Linked DNA regions of Homo sapiens. The protein of the gene in region 2 interacts with the protein of the main gene of each other region in a biochemical or structural test. Each region holds a gene or a part of one and is shown on either strand. Other genes may lie near its edges. The genes, in order: RAB35 and USP32.

Region 1 (5,446 bases), on a different chromosome or scaffold from region 2:
TGAATAAGAATAAAATGAATTTCTACAGAGCTTCCTGCCTCAGTCTCTGGGTATTTGCGGGGGGCGGGTTTGGTCTGAATGCAGCTGACATGTCAGACTCACCACTGGCTGCTGCTGGAGAGGTAGCAATAGTGGTTCCCCTGCACCCGGGCCACCTCAGATGCTGGTACTTACTTAACCAAGGGATTTGGCCAGGAAGGGCATCCTCCCCTGCCCCTCCCGCCTGGCACTGCCCCCTGCCAGTGCTGCAGCGTGCCATCCGCAAGGCAGGCCTGCCAACGCTGCTTCCCAGGCCAGCAGGGCCCTAAAGCTTGGCAGAAACTTCAAGCCAGAAAGAAACCACGCCAGGCAAAGGCTTCCACTGCATCCTTCCAGGCATGTGGAGGATAAACACGGAGCTTCCCCTGGCATCTTACCACATGTGCTCCCAGTCCAACTAGGGGGAGACTCAACCCTGGCCCACCTGTTCATGGAGAAAATGGACCTGGCTTCTGGAAGTGTCCCAAGGGCCTCGACAGGCTCCTGTGCAAGACTTAGGCCAAGAACAGGGAAGAGCAGGACACGGTGGGTGGGAAGAAGCCACGGCCACTCAGCACATCTCTGGAGGGAGAGCAAACAGACCCTGGAAGAAAATTTGGCAGCTTGAACCTTTATTTTTAGTATTTTTTTAAAAAGCATAATTAGAAACTTTCAATACAGAAATACTCCTAGCAAACCATTGAAAAGTGGTGTTTGTTTGACAGGAATTTCACATCAGGTCCACTAGGACGTCGGTCCAGCCCTGAGTCCCCACCCCCACCCCATAACCCCCATTCATGCGTGTAACAGTGGGACAGGCACACTGTCATGACCAAAATCACCCCAATACCTGGGGCTGATGTCCAGCTGCCAGAAGCCATGGGGGCTTCTAGCCTGGGCTGGAAGCCCCCAGGAACCCCCCTCTTATTGCTTGAATTTGCAAGCACACCCTCGCTGGCCTCGCCTGATCGCTCAGAGGCCAGCATGCCCCCCGCCCACCGGCACAGGAGCCCCAGGCACCGTGCATCCTCAGGGCCCGTGGCCAACCAGGACAGTCCCAAGGACGGAGACCCCGCTTCTGCTCCTGCCGCCCCCGCCCCCGACCAGATGAGGCTGCCTGCTGGTCAGCCCTGCAGCCCCCTCCACAGCACCCTCCTTCCCAGGCCCATGGGGCTCCCCCACCCCATCCCGTGGCTCCAAAGTGAAGGCCTGTCCCAGAATCACCAGCTTTTGGCAGTTTGGGCAAGTGGAGAGTCGGTGAGAAGAAACCCCCAGTTTTTATTGATTAAAAACCCATCCACAGTGCTAACATGGAAACTGCAGTGTGATCTGTGATGTGATTGTCCAATCAGGGCTCTCCCTGGAAATCGCCTAGGAAAGGAAATCTAAGGAAACACATCCTGGTGTTAAACTCGGTTCTTCCCAGGTCACTTGATCCCTGTAGTGGGAGGGGAATGAGGTGTCCGGGCTGGGGGTCGGGGAGCAGTCATCAAGTGCAGATGACCCTGGTTGTTCTCCAGGGCACTGGGGCGTGTCAAAACTGGCCGCCCCAGCCATTCCTTCCCACCCGCCAGGAAATCCTCTTGCTACCTTTGTCCTGACAAAGGTTAGGACAGTGACCAGGGCCTGTCCATGGTCCCCACCCAGAGGCCCCAGGCATGCACTCCCCACAGTGCCCGAGGCTGCAGTGTAGACTCCTGACCTCCAGTGGGAGGCAACTCGGACAAGGGTGGGAGGCCCCTTCTCCGCTCCCACCAAGAAAGCCCAAGAGTCCAGCCCCACAATGGCAGGAAGCCATTCATTTTTTTCTAAAAACAGTGGACACAAGTGGGGTGGCCTCAACTTTTGCTGCTGTGCCAATCAAACCTCAGGGAAAGAAAATAATTGTGAGGAATTTAATTCACTTGATTTGGCTTCATTTTCTTGATCTGTTAAAATAATCCTCCCATAGCCCCCCTGCCAGCCCCATCTCTGCACGAACCTACCCCGACCTTTCTGTTGGAACTGAAACCTGTTGGTGTAAATGAGAAGCCATGGCTGCCCTGGGTTTGGAGCTCAGAGGCATCTAGAAGGCAGGACAAGAAATCTGTTGGCCAAAGGGCAAGACCTGCCACCTCTGTGGAACTGCAGGGCCTGCCTTGAGACCAGGTTCCCCAGCTCCCAGAATGGCTGTGGGGACAGGACAACGGGGAGGGAAGGGAGCTGGCACAGGCCCCGGAGAAGGGGCAAGACCCTGTGCAGCGGGGACAGAGGCTGACAACCTGTCGGAGAGAATGAGCAACGCGGAGCCCACTCCACTGGCACGGGCTGGCCGCAGACGCAGCTAGAACGTGCCGCTGTCTCCTCAGGACGCTGCTTGCAGTAAGATGGGCTGGGGAGGGGCGCGGGGAGGGTCTGTTGCAGCAGGCTGGCATCAAGAAGGCAAAAGCCAGAGCAGGACGTGGTGTGCGGCCGGGTAGAGCAATATACACTATGTACAGACTCTGCGAATCAGTCCGCTCGGCGGGCAGCGTCCTCGCCAGGTCCAGGCGCCTTGGCCGGGGAGGAGGGGGCACCAGTAGGGAAGGGCGGGCTGGTCCAACACCTTCTTGGCACTCGAGGAGGGCGGGGGAGGAAGTGCCGATGGCACCTCCCGATACAAAAACATGGAGAGAATTCTTTAAATAACGGCACGAAACTGAGACTGTCCCCCGAGGAACCTCCGTGGGCCTCGGGCTGGGGGAGGGACCGCAGTGCAGTCTCTGCAGTGGACTGGGTGCCATTAGCAGCAGCGTTTCTTTCGTTTACTGTTCTTCGTGAGCTTCACCACATCGTTCTGTTGTTGCTGCTGCTGTTTTGCCAGGTTGTCTTTCTTTGCTCGGAGGACCAGCTCCGTGATGCAGTTGAACATCTGTGGAGAGGAAAGAGGAAGGGCCCGCCTCAGACCTGGCCAGGAGGCCCCTGCTGGCCTGCACGGCTGCCTCCCCGCCTTCCGGGGCCCAGCTCTTTCTACCTGTGCATTTTTGGTATGTATGTCTTCAAAGCCTATTCTAGAAGGAGGTGGTGAATTATTTTATTTAAAGGTCAAAAAGGAACAACATTGCTAAAACCCCACCTCTACAAAAAACACAAAAATTAGCCGGGAGTGGTGGTGCACACCTGTAGTCCCAGCTACTTGAGAAGCTAAGGTGGGAGGATTACTTGAGCCCAGGAGATCGAGACTACAGTGGGCTGTGAACACACCACTGCACTCCAGCCTGGATGACAGAGTTAGACCCTGACTCAACAAATAAATAAGTCTGAAAAAAGGAACACCATCAGAGGCCCATGAGCTGTGTGGACTTGGGGAAGTCAATCTCACAGGGGTTTTCCAGTCCTTCTTTTAGAGAGACCAACCCCTTTCCTTCAGCTGGAATCTTTTTTTTTTTTTTTTTTTTGTGAGATGGAGTCTCGCTCTGTCGCCCAGGCTGGAGTGCAGTGGCGTGATCTCAGCTCACTGCAAACTCTGCCTCCCTGGTTCACACCATTCTCCTGCCTCAGCCTCCCGAGTAGCTGGGACTACAGGCGCCCACCACCACGCCCGGCTAATTTTTTTGTATTTTTAGTAGAGACAGGGTTCCACCATGTTAGCCAGGATGGTCTCGATCTCCTGACCTCGTGATCCGCCCGCCTCGGCCTCCCAAAGCACTGAGATTACAGGCGTGAGCCGGCGCGCCCGGCCCAGCTGGAATCTTATGACATGACAGATGAAAGTGCCCCTGCTGTTCACGGACATAGGTGACCCGGGGTCTGCCTGCTCCACGCCACTTCATGGCATGTGGGGCCCAGAGAGGTGAAGTCACCGCCCAAGGTCATACCAGCCTTGCCCACAGGCCCAGGTGGATGGGCCAGCATCAGGACACCAGCCTGACTTACAAAGGAGCCTGTGCCCGCTGCTGTGTGGCCCCTGTGCCCTGAAGCAGTGGGATCCTCGACTTCCACAGGCCTCTGGGCTCCACACAGCACAAGGCGGCCAATGAGGCAGAGGACTGGAGTGGAAACTGTGCTTGGCTTTGGTGTGGGACAGAGGTTTACTCAGTCTCTTACTAGCCAGGTGGTGGTCCTTGAGTTACTTCAACACTTGGAGCCTCAGTTTCCCTATTTGAAATGTGGGTATAATTGTACCTACCTCAGAGGACTGTTGAACTATGAACTAAGATCGTTAAAGGGCCTGGCACATAGTAGGCACTCAATAAATGGCAGTTACTATGACATTTTCTGTTGGTCATTTAGATGCCTCAAGCAGGCCAGCAGCATGGAGAAGGCGGCCACGGGTGTGTGGCAGAGCCACAGTGGCCCAGGGCCTCACCTCTTCCACGTTGACATTCTCCTTGGCGCTGGTCTCGAACAACTGGATGCCCATCTGCCCGGCGAATTTGTAGGCATCTTCCGTCTCCACCACCTTCCGCTCAGGGTCGTCATTCTTATTACCCACTTCAAACGAAGGCAGAGTCAGCGCAGCCCTGAGGGGCGCAGCCGGCTGCCTCTCTCCCACCCAACCCCGACCCGGCCCTGAGTGCAGCCTCACCTAATATTCGGCACACATCATCACAGTTCTGGTTGATTTCGTGAAGCCACCGCTTGACGTTGACAAAGGACTCGGCACTGGTGACGTCGTAAACCACAATGACCCCGTGGGTCCCCCGATAATACCTGCAGGGCCAGAGTGTGCGGCAGCATGTCAACCCCGACAGGAGTCACCCCCTTGCCGGGACCCACCTGCCCACGTCAGGACACTGACCCGGAAAAGGTGAGGGTGGCCCTGGAGCCTGGGCTCTCACTCAGCCTCGGCAGATGCCCCCGAGCCACAACAGGCCAGCAGGAGAGGCTACTGCGGCAGCACTGACTCCCCCTGCCCGCCCGGGGCACCAACAGGGCGGGAGGGCCAGCCCCTGGGCAGCAGAGCAGGTCTGAGGAGTCACCTCCTGCTGTTCAGAGTCTGCTGCAGGCTTGAAACATCTTTGAAGTTCTTGCTTTATTTTGGGAAATCAGGCAGTTTTTGTATTTGACATCATGTTATCACTGTCTTTGAACATTCAAAAAAATATTTGCTCCTCAAACCTGTTTTAGAGAACCTTTCCAAGAAGCCACACCATCATGACGCCCTGGCAAAGTCTGTGCCCCTCCCCTGGGGCAGGTAGGCACCTCCCTTCCTGCTACTCTTGGCTCATCTGTGCAGGTGGCAGGAAAAGCATGGAAGCCACACAAGCATCCAGGGATGGCTGGGGAGAGGGCGCCCAGCAAAGCCATCACCCCAAACATGCAGAGCCCAGGGCCAGCCAGGAAGGCCAGAAGGAAGGGGAGGCCCAACTCTCCTCTCCAGACCCCATGTCCCCATTCATCCCAGTGGCACAGGACGACATCAATCCCCGGAGGAGGAGGGGGACCACAGCCTCCGCTTCCCCGAGAG
Region 2 (7,291 bases):
TCTTTTAAGTTACTATATGTATACTTGTAATATTTGTCTCTGAGATCCATAATAGCAATTGATCACCATGGACAGTACTATCTTTCAAAGATTATTGTTACATATAAAGATTACATGTTACAAAGATTATATGTTACATTATAAACTAATGGTGTGGCCGAGCACAGTGGCTCACGCCTGTAATCCCATCACTTTGGGAGGCCGAGGTGGCTGGAGCACCAGAGGTCAGGAGTTTGAGACCAGCCTGGCCAACGTGGTGAAACCCTGTCTCTACTAAAAATACAAAAATTAGCTGGGCATGGCGGTGGGAGCCTGTAGTCCCAGCTACTCAGAAGGCTGAGGCAGGAGAATTGCTTGAACCCAGAGGCAGAGGTTGCAGTGAGCCAAGATAGTGCCACTATACTCCAGCCTGGGCAACAGAGCCAGACTCCATCTTTAAAAAAAAAAAAAACAAAAAACAAAACGTATTCATGTAACCAAACACCACCTGTTCCCCAAAAACCTATTGAAATTTTAAAAAAGAGAAAGATAACGCTTATGAAGTACACATTGTCTTTCTGTCATACTGCCACCTAAGTTATAAATATTTATGAACAACTATAGTAGGCCAGATATTTGTGATATGTTATATAACTACAAAGAAGTTGTTTTTTTAATTGTTACTCATTTTTATCTCTGTATTTGTTTCAAGTTTACTAACCAAATAACAAAAACATTTCCTCCTCCTTACACAGAACTACCTTACTCTTCTGGATGATGAGGATCATAAATTGGAATATTTGAAAATCCAGGATGAACAACACCTGGTAATTGAAGGTACAAGATGGAAGCATGCATCTATATTAAATTTTCAAGGGGAAGAATTTAAAGAGTTACTAATAACCCATTTTATAATTTTCTCCAAAACAACTATTATTTGATTATTATGTTTTTATGATAAAGAAACCCTTTGGAAAAAAAAGAAAAAGAAAACCCTTTGAACTCTTATGTAATCCTACCATACAATTTAGATTGCTTTAAAGGGAAAATATTCTGTTTTTAGTCATTGACTGACAAAGAATGGGAATGGTAGATAAAAAACAAGTGAATTCAGTTTACACATTTATAGTTCCTTAAAATTTTCAAGTTGCTGCTTTGAGTTTGAGTAAAAAGAACAACTTTCTTGCATAGTTAGTAGCACAGGCTTTCATTAGTCACCAACATTGGCTACTCACTGACAGAGCTATTTGTATATTCATAGATTTACACACTGGCATGCACATGCCATTAAAAACTTTTTAAGTGTATCTTTTCCCATCAAGTTTTGTGGCAACATTGTTAGCTGCCTTTGTATTAAAATGAATAGGCCGGGCGCAGTGGCTCACGCCTGTAATCCCAGCACTTTGGGAGGCTGAGATGGGTGGATCACTTGAGGTCAGGAGTTCCAGACCAGCCTGGACAACATGGTGAAATCTGTCTCTGCTAAAAATACAAAAATTAGCTGGGTGTGGTGGCACGTGCCTGTAGTCCCAGCTACTCAGGAAGCTGAGGCACGAGAATCAGTCAAGCCCAGGAGGCGGAGGTTGCAGTGACTCAAGATCACATCACTGCACTCCAACCTGGGGGGACAAAGCCAGACTGTCTCAAAAAAAAAAAAAGGAATAAATTACTCTGACAGTTGTTACAATTTAAGAAAGAATTGTAATTTCTAATGTTTTAAGTATAAGAAATTCCATTGTTTCTGAACTTTAATTACTTCTGTAGATGGTTGAGTATAATTTTACTTCAAGTAGGTAATTGAGGGATAAGATTATTCAAACCAAGTGACTTTAAAGTCCTCAATATGAAGAGTAGGAATGGTTTTAGAGCCAATTACAGGCATGTGCTGCAAAAAGATGTTTGTCAACAAAAGACCTGTATACAGCAGTGGTCCCATAAGATTATAATACTGTATTTTTAGTTGTGCCTTTTCTATGTTCTAACATGTTTAGATACACAAATACTTACCATTGTGTTACACTTGCCTACAGTATTCAATGCAGTAACATACTGTACAGGTTTGTAGCCAAGGAGCGACAGCCTATACCATACATAGCCTAGGTTTGTGTAGGTACACTCTGTGATGTTCACACAAAGACAAAATCACCTAATGATGCATTTCTCAGAATATAACCTCGTCGTTAAGCAATGTATGTACTAAAATTAACTAGATTTTAAAACTTCTGATTTAGGAATAAGATGTCTTTAAAAAAAAAAAGCAATCGAATGGGTATAAATTAGATAGATAAGAAATTAACACATTCCTATCTGTCCTTCCAGTTCGCAACAAAGATATGAGTTGGCCTGAGGAGATGTCTTTTATAGCAAATAGTAGTAAAATAGATAGACACAAGGGTAAGTCTCCAGTATTATTTTTTAAAGAGATTATTTTAAATGTATTCTTTTTTTTTCTTCTCTCAACTGTTAAAGTGCTAACAACTTTTGGTTTTCTAGTTCAAAAGTAATTAGGGCCTTCTTCTTTTTCTTTTTTCCTGAAGCAGCATTTGATGTTGGCAAACCCACCATCAAATTATTTTCTAAATTTCTTTCTAACTCTGCAATTAAATAATTTATATGTTTTAAAAGACATACTAGAAGAAGAATTGTTTGAATTATTTTGAAAAATCATAGCAATTAAAAAGAATAATTGCTGCTTCTGGGTTACAAATGAGCATGGATCATCACTGTTGCCAGACACTCCATGAAAAGCCTTCTCTAGCATTTCAGAGACCTGCTAGAGAATTATTAGCACCATTTAGCTGATTATGAGAGTTATAAAAAACCTTTTCATTGAATATAAGTAACTGTTTGTGCCATGGCATATTACTACAGCTAAGCTTTGGTTCTCATATTGTTTGTTCCAGTTCCCACAGAAAAGGGAGCCACAGGTCTAAGCAATCTGGGAAACACATGCTTCATGAACTCAAGCATCCAGTGTGTTAGTAACACACAGCCACTGACACAGTATTTTATCTCAGGGAGACATCTTTATGAACTCAACAGGTAATCTTTCTGGAGTCACTGGCCTCTTAACCTGTGACTTTGATATAAACCCAATATCACCTAAATTTCCTCTTTTTTCACCCTGTGGGAGAAAGATTTTATCTTATTTGCCCTATTTAATATGAAATAGGCCAAGGAATACATCTCTTGTTTCAAAAAGAAAAGATATTTTGATGTGAGATGCTAGGCATTTTTGCGCCCACATGATTGTGATTTATGAGAATCTTTGGCAACAAATTTTCCTCTCAAACTTCTAGGACAAATCCCATTGGTATGAAGGGGCATATGGCTAAATGCTATGGTGATTTAGTGCAGGAACTTTGGAGTGGAACTCAGAAGAATGTTGCCCCATTAAAGCTTCGGGTAAGCAGGTTAAAATAATATAAAAGTATTTAATTCCTAATAGTTGTTTAATCATTTTTCTCTGCTTGTTTTTTGTGTTTAGCCTTTTAACTTAATAAATGTTTTTGGATCCTTCACTTGGTATAAACAAAAGGTCAAATTCTTTTGCTTGTTTAAATATATGCAAAATTACTACTGTATATGTAGTGGGTAGGATAAAGACCAAAGGTACACTCTAAATTCGGGATGTCATTCATTTTACTAATTTGTCAAACATCTTATATGAAGAGTAAACCTTTTTTGGTAATACTTCACTATTAGCAGTATTCTAACTGCAAGGTGGACCTCAGAGTCTTATTAATTACATCCAATCCAATCCATTTTCAACGTAACTAAGATAGTTCTATCTGTAGAATACAAAGAAGTAGGCTGGGCGCAGGGGCTCACGCCTGTAATCTCAGCACTTTGGGAGGCCGAGGTGGGTGGATCACTTGAGGCCAGGAGTTCAAGACCAGCCTGGACAAGATGGCGAAACCCTGTCTCTACTAAAAAAAATTAGCCGGGCATAGTGGTGCATGCTTGTAATCCCAGCTACTTGGGAGGCTGAGGCACGAGAAACGCTTGAACCTGGGAGGTGGTGTTTGCAATGAGCCAAGATCGCACCACTGTACTCCAGCCTGGGCAACAGAGTAAGACTCTGTCTCCAAAAAGAAAAAAAAAAAGTAGAAGGATGAATGAATGAAACTAATGAATATAAGTTTTATATTAATATCAGATGTAGTAGATTTTAGTGAAGTTAGGATTATTCATTATTTTTATTTAAATACAAAGCAAAAGCTTTTTATATTACAAATTATTAACTATAACAGCTACACATTTGACTACTTACCTCTTGCCAGGCACTATTCTAATTAATTTATATCCTCAAAATAATTCTATAATATAATGCAGTTAATAAAATTTAGGATGCAACAAGACCAGAAAATGTAATTGTTGAAGACAACATTATATTATATAAAATAATGTATACACATATTATTTTATACATGTTATGTATTATTATATACACATTATTTTATGCATATGTTATGTATATACTATGTACCTATAAAATATACATATTTTATATGCATATAAAAATGTAAAACGTTATAGAACAGGATGTCTTTCAATGTGAGCAAACGCTGTTTTAATGTTTCTGTCTTAAATAACATCTGTGTGCCTGAAGAACAGTTTGCTTACATAATACTGAACTGAGGACACAGTATTGCACAGTATTGGCCAAAATACTTCTCTTTTTTTGGGGGGGGTCATTTGACATTAAGATTCAAAAGATTTCATGATTATCCAAAATATATTTGTTGAAATAGAGGCAGACTAAGTACTATACTATTTATTTTCTTACAATGGCTCTGATTGGATTATAGGACATGTTCATTCCAAATTTTATGGGTAGGAAATAATGACTGTGACTTCTCTTATATTTATAGTGGACCATAGCAAAATATGCTCCCAGGTTTAATGGGTTTCAGCAACAGGACTCCCAAGAACTTCTGGCTTTTCTCTTGGATGGTCTTCATGAAGATCTTAATCGAGTCCATGAAAAGCCATATGTGGAACTGAAGGACAGTGATGGGCGACCAGACTGGGAAGTAGCTGCAGAGGTTTGTCAGTTTTGAGTTTCTAATGTAAGCAATAGACAAAATGTTCTGGCCACAAATACATGTAGCACAACTTAAATGCAAACTCAACTATTCTGAGATCAGAACTTTACTGCAAAAATGAATGAATTTCTATTTCTGTGCTTAATTCTTATGCAATAATGCCAAAACAAAAATACGTTTAATGAAAATAGAAAACTGTTGCCATTTCATATTGTAAACTTTATGGGACTGGATGTAGGAATAATTATCCAGTGGAATTTAAAGAGTCCCCGTAATTGCTAAAGTAATGGATACAGTGACCTATAGGCATGCTTTATACTTGTTAATGGACAAATAACTTTAATATTTACCATTGTTACCTTGATAAGAACAAATGAAAAATAGGATTTTCCATCTCAATTTAATATTTTATGTTAAATGAAGAGTAAGGATTATATTCTTTACATTTAAATCCAATATATTTAACTAGCTTCTTTGAATTTATATAGAAATGCTTCTCTTTTGGATTTTGAGAGAAAATTCTCATCTTTTTTATTGCTAGGCCTGGGACAACCATCTAAGAAGAAATAGATCAATTGTTGTGGATTTGTTCCATGGGCAGCTAAGATCTCAAGTAAAATGCAAGACATGTGGGCATATAAGTGTCCGATTTGACCCTTTCAATTTTTTGTCTTTGCCACTACCAATGGACAGTTATATGCACTTAGAAATAACAGGTAGGTCAGAAAGTTCTGAAAAATTACTTGACTCCATTAAATTTACTTTATTTAAATAGCCTGAATTTGTAAGCATAGTTATTTGTTTACAAATAAAGACCGGTAGTCAGCATATTATAATTGAGCAACCTAATTTTAGGCATGACTTGAGGTTTGAAAGATGTAGACTGGGGCATGTTTTTTTGGTTTCAAATATGCCAGCAACTCTCTTTAAAACCCTGCAAAGCCACTGATACTTTTATGTCAGATGAACACCAAAAAAATACTGATTTCACTTAATATTATCCCTAAGTACCATCTGTTTTAGTGTTTACACATAAAATAAAAATTCTAGGCTGAAATATTTGCTATTATATTTACAGGTCAGATATATCTGTACACAGCATTTAAGACTTTCAATGAAACCTGCATTTTACCAATAAAAGATCTTTTCTCTTTACTAGTGATTAAGTTAGATGGTACTACCCCTGTACGGTATGGACTAAGACTGAATATGGATGAAAAGTACACAGGTTTAAAAAAACAGCTGAGTGATCTCTGTGGACTTAATTCAGAACAAATCCTTCTAGCAGAAGTACATGGTTCCAACATAAAGGTAATATTAACTACTCTAAGAAACTTTTGATTCTATCCTCCAAAGATGACATTTTTCTCAATTATTATGATCAATTGTTAGGTTATGTGACCAAGAGAGATACTAAAACATAACGAAAACTGAACAACAACAACAAAAAATGCCAAGTTTTCCAACCCAGAAACTTAAGAGTTTTCTACCAGAATAAAGGGATAATACTGATGGTGGTATTTTTGAAGAAGGGAAATACGTAAGGCTGCCTATATGGAGTGTTCTAGCTGTGTCACTATAGTATAGGTTTCCACCAAAGACTGCTGCTGTTACCAAAGACTGCTGCTATTACCCTTGACAACTCTTCTGTATTACCGCTGTTACTAGAATTCTTCCTAGGTTAAAGTATTTTATGTATTTATGAATGTGTGTTTTTAGTATTTATGAATATATATACTTGGTCTTTTAACACACTAAGAAATTAAGAGTAAAGACAAATTGACACCAATCATGTCTTTCTACATACCAGCTGGGGAAACAAATAATCTAATAAATATATTGCCTACTCTAAATTAAGCTCCTGCAACTGGTATTATTTATATTCATCTTTGGGATTTCTGAACACACTCTCACCTCACTGACAGTTTCTTAATATGAAATGCAAAAATGGAGTCTCTGAGGGTTGGAATTTAGATCCCTGAAACGGACAAAACTGAAGTCAGTCGTATATAACACACTTCTTCCTGTGAAAAGAGATAATAGTTCGAAAATTGAGGTTAGTTTTCCGTTATTTTTATCAAGCATTCATCCTTTATGTAGTTGAAAAATTATTCAATCATCTCGTTGGTTTTACGGATGAAAGCGCCTAAGACATTCTTTTGAAATATGTTAGAGAGAGAACTTTTCCATTTTATCTGAAACATCTCCCCCTTCTCATCTTGCTTCTGTTTCTGTAGAACTTTCCTCAGGACAACCAAAAAGTA

What was found.
Region 1: the proteins of USP32 (region 2) and RAB35 form a complex in vitro, tested with the Homo sapiens proteins (one study listed by BioGRID).

The regions. Positions count from the first base shown.
Region 1 is NC_000012.12:120,094,466-120,099,911, forward strand, and holds the end of RAB35 (ras-related protein Rab-35), read right to left. Parts: intron 4,690-5,446; coding exon 4,565-4,689; intron 4,471-4,564; coding exon 4,346-4,470; intron 2,909-4,345; coding exon 2,780-2,908; 3' UTR 634-2,779; downstream 1-633. UniProt on the Homo sapiens protein: The small GTPases Rab are key regulators of intracellular membrane trafficking, from the formation of transport vesicles to their fusion with membranes.
Region 2 is NC_000017.11:60,207,106-60,214,396, reverse strand, and holds part of USP32 (ubiquitin carboxyl-terminal hydrolase 32), read left to right. Parts: intron 1-734; coding exon 735-816; intron 817-2,298; coding exon 2,299-2,373; intron 2,374-2,882; coding exon 2,883-3,021; intron 3,022-3,278; coding exon 3,279-3,384; intron 3,385-4,853; coding exon 4,854-5,027; intron 5,028-5,568; coding exon 5,569-5,743; intron 5,744-6,186; coding exon 6,187-6,338; intron 6,339-7,264; coding exon 7,265-7,291. UniProt on the Homo sapiens protein: Deubiquitinase that can remove conjugated ubiquitin from target proteins, such as RAB7A and LAMTOR1.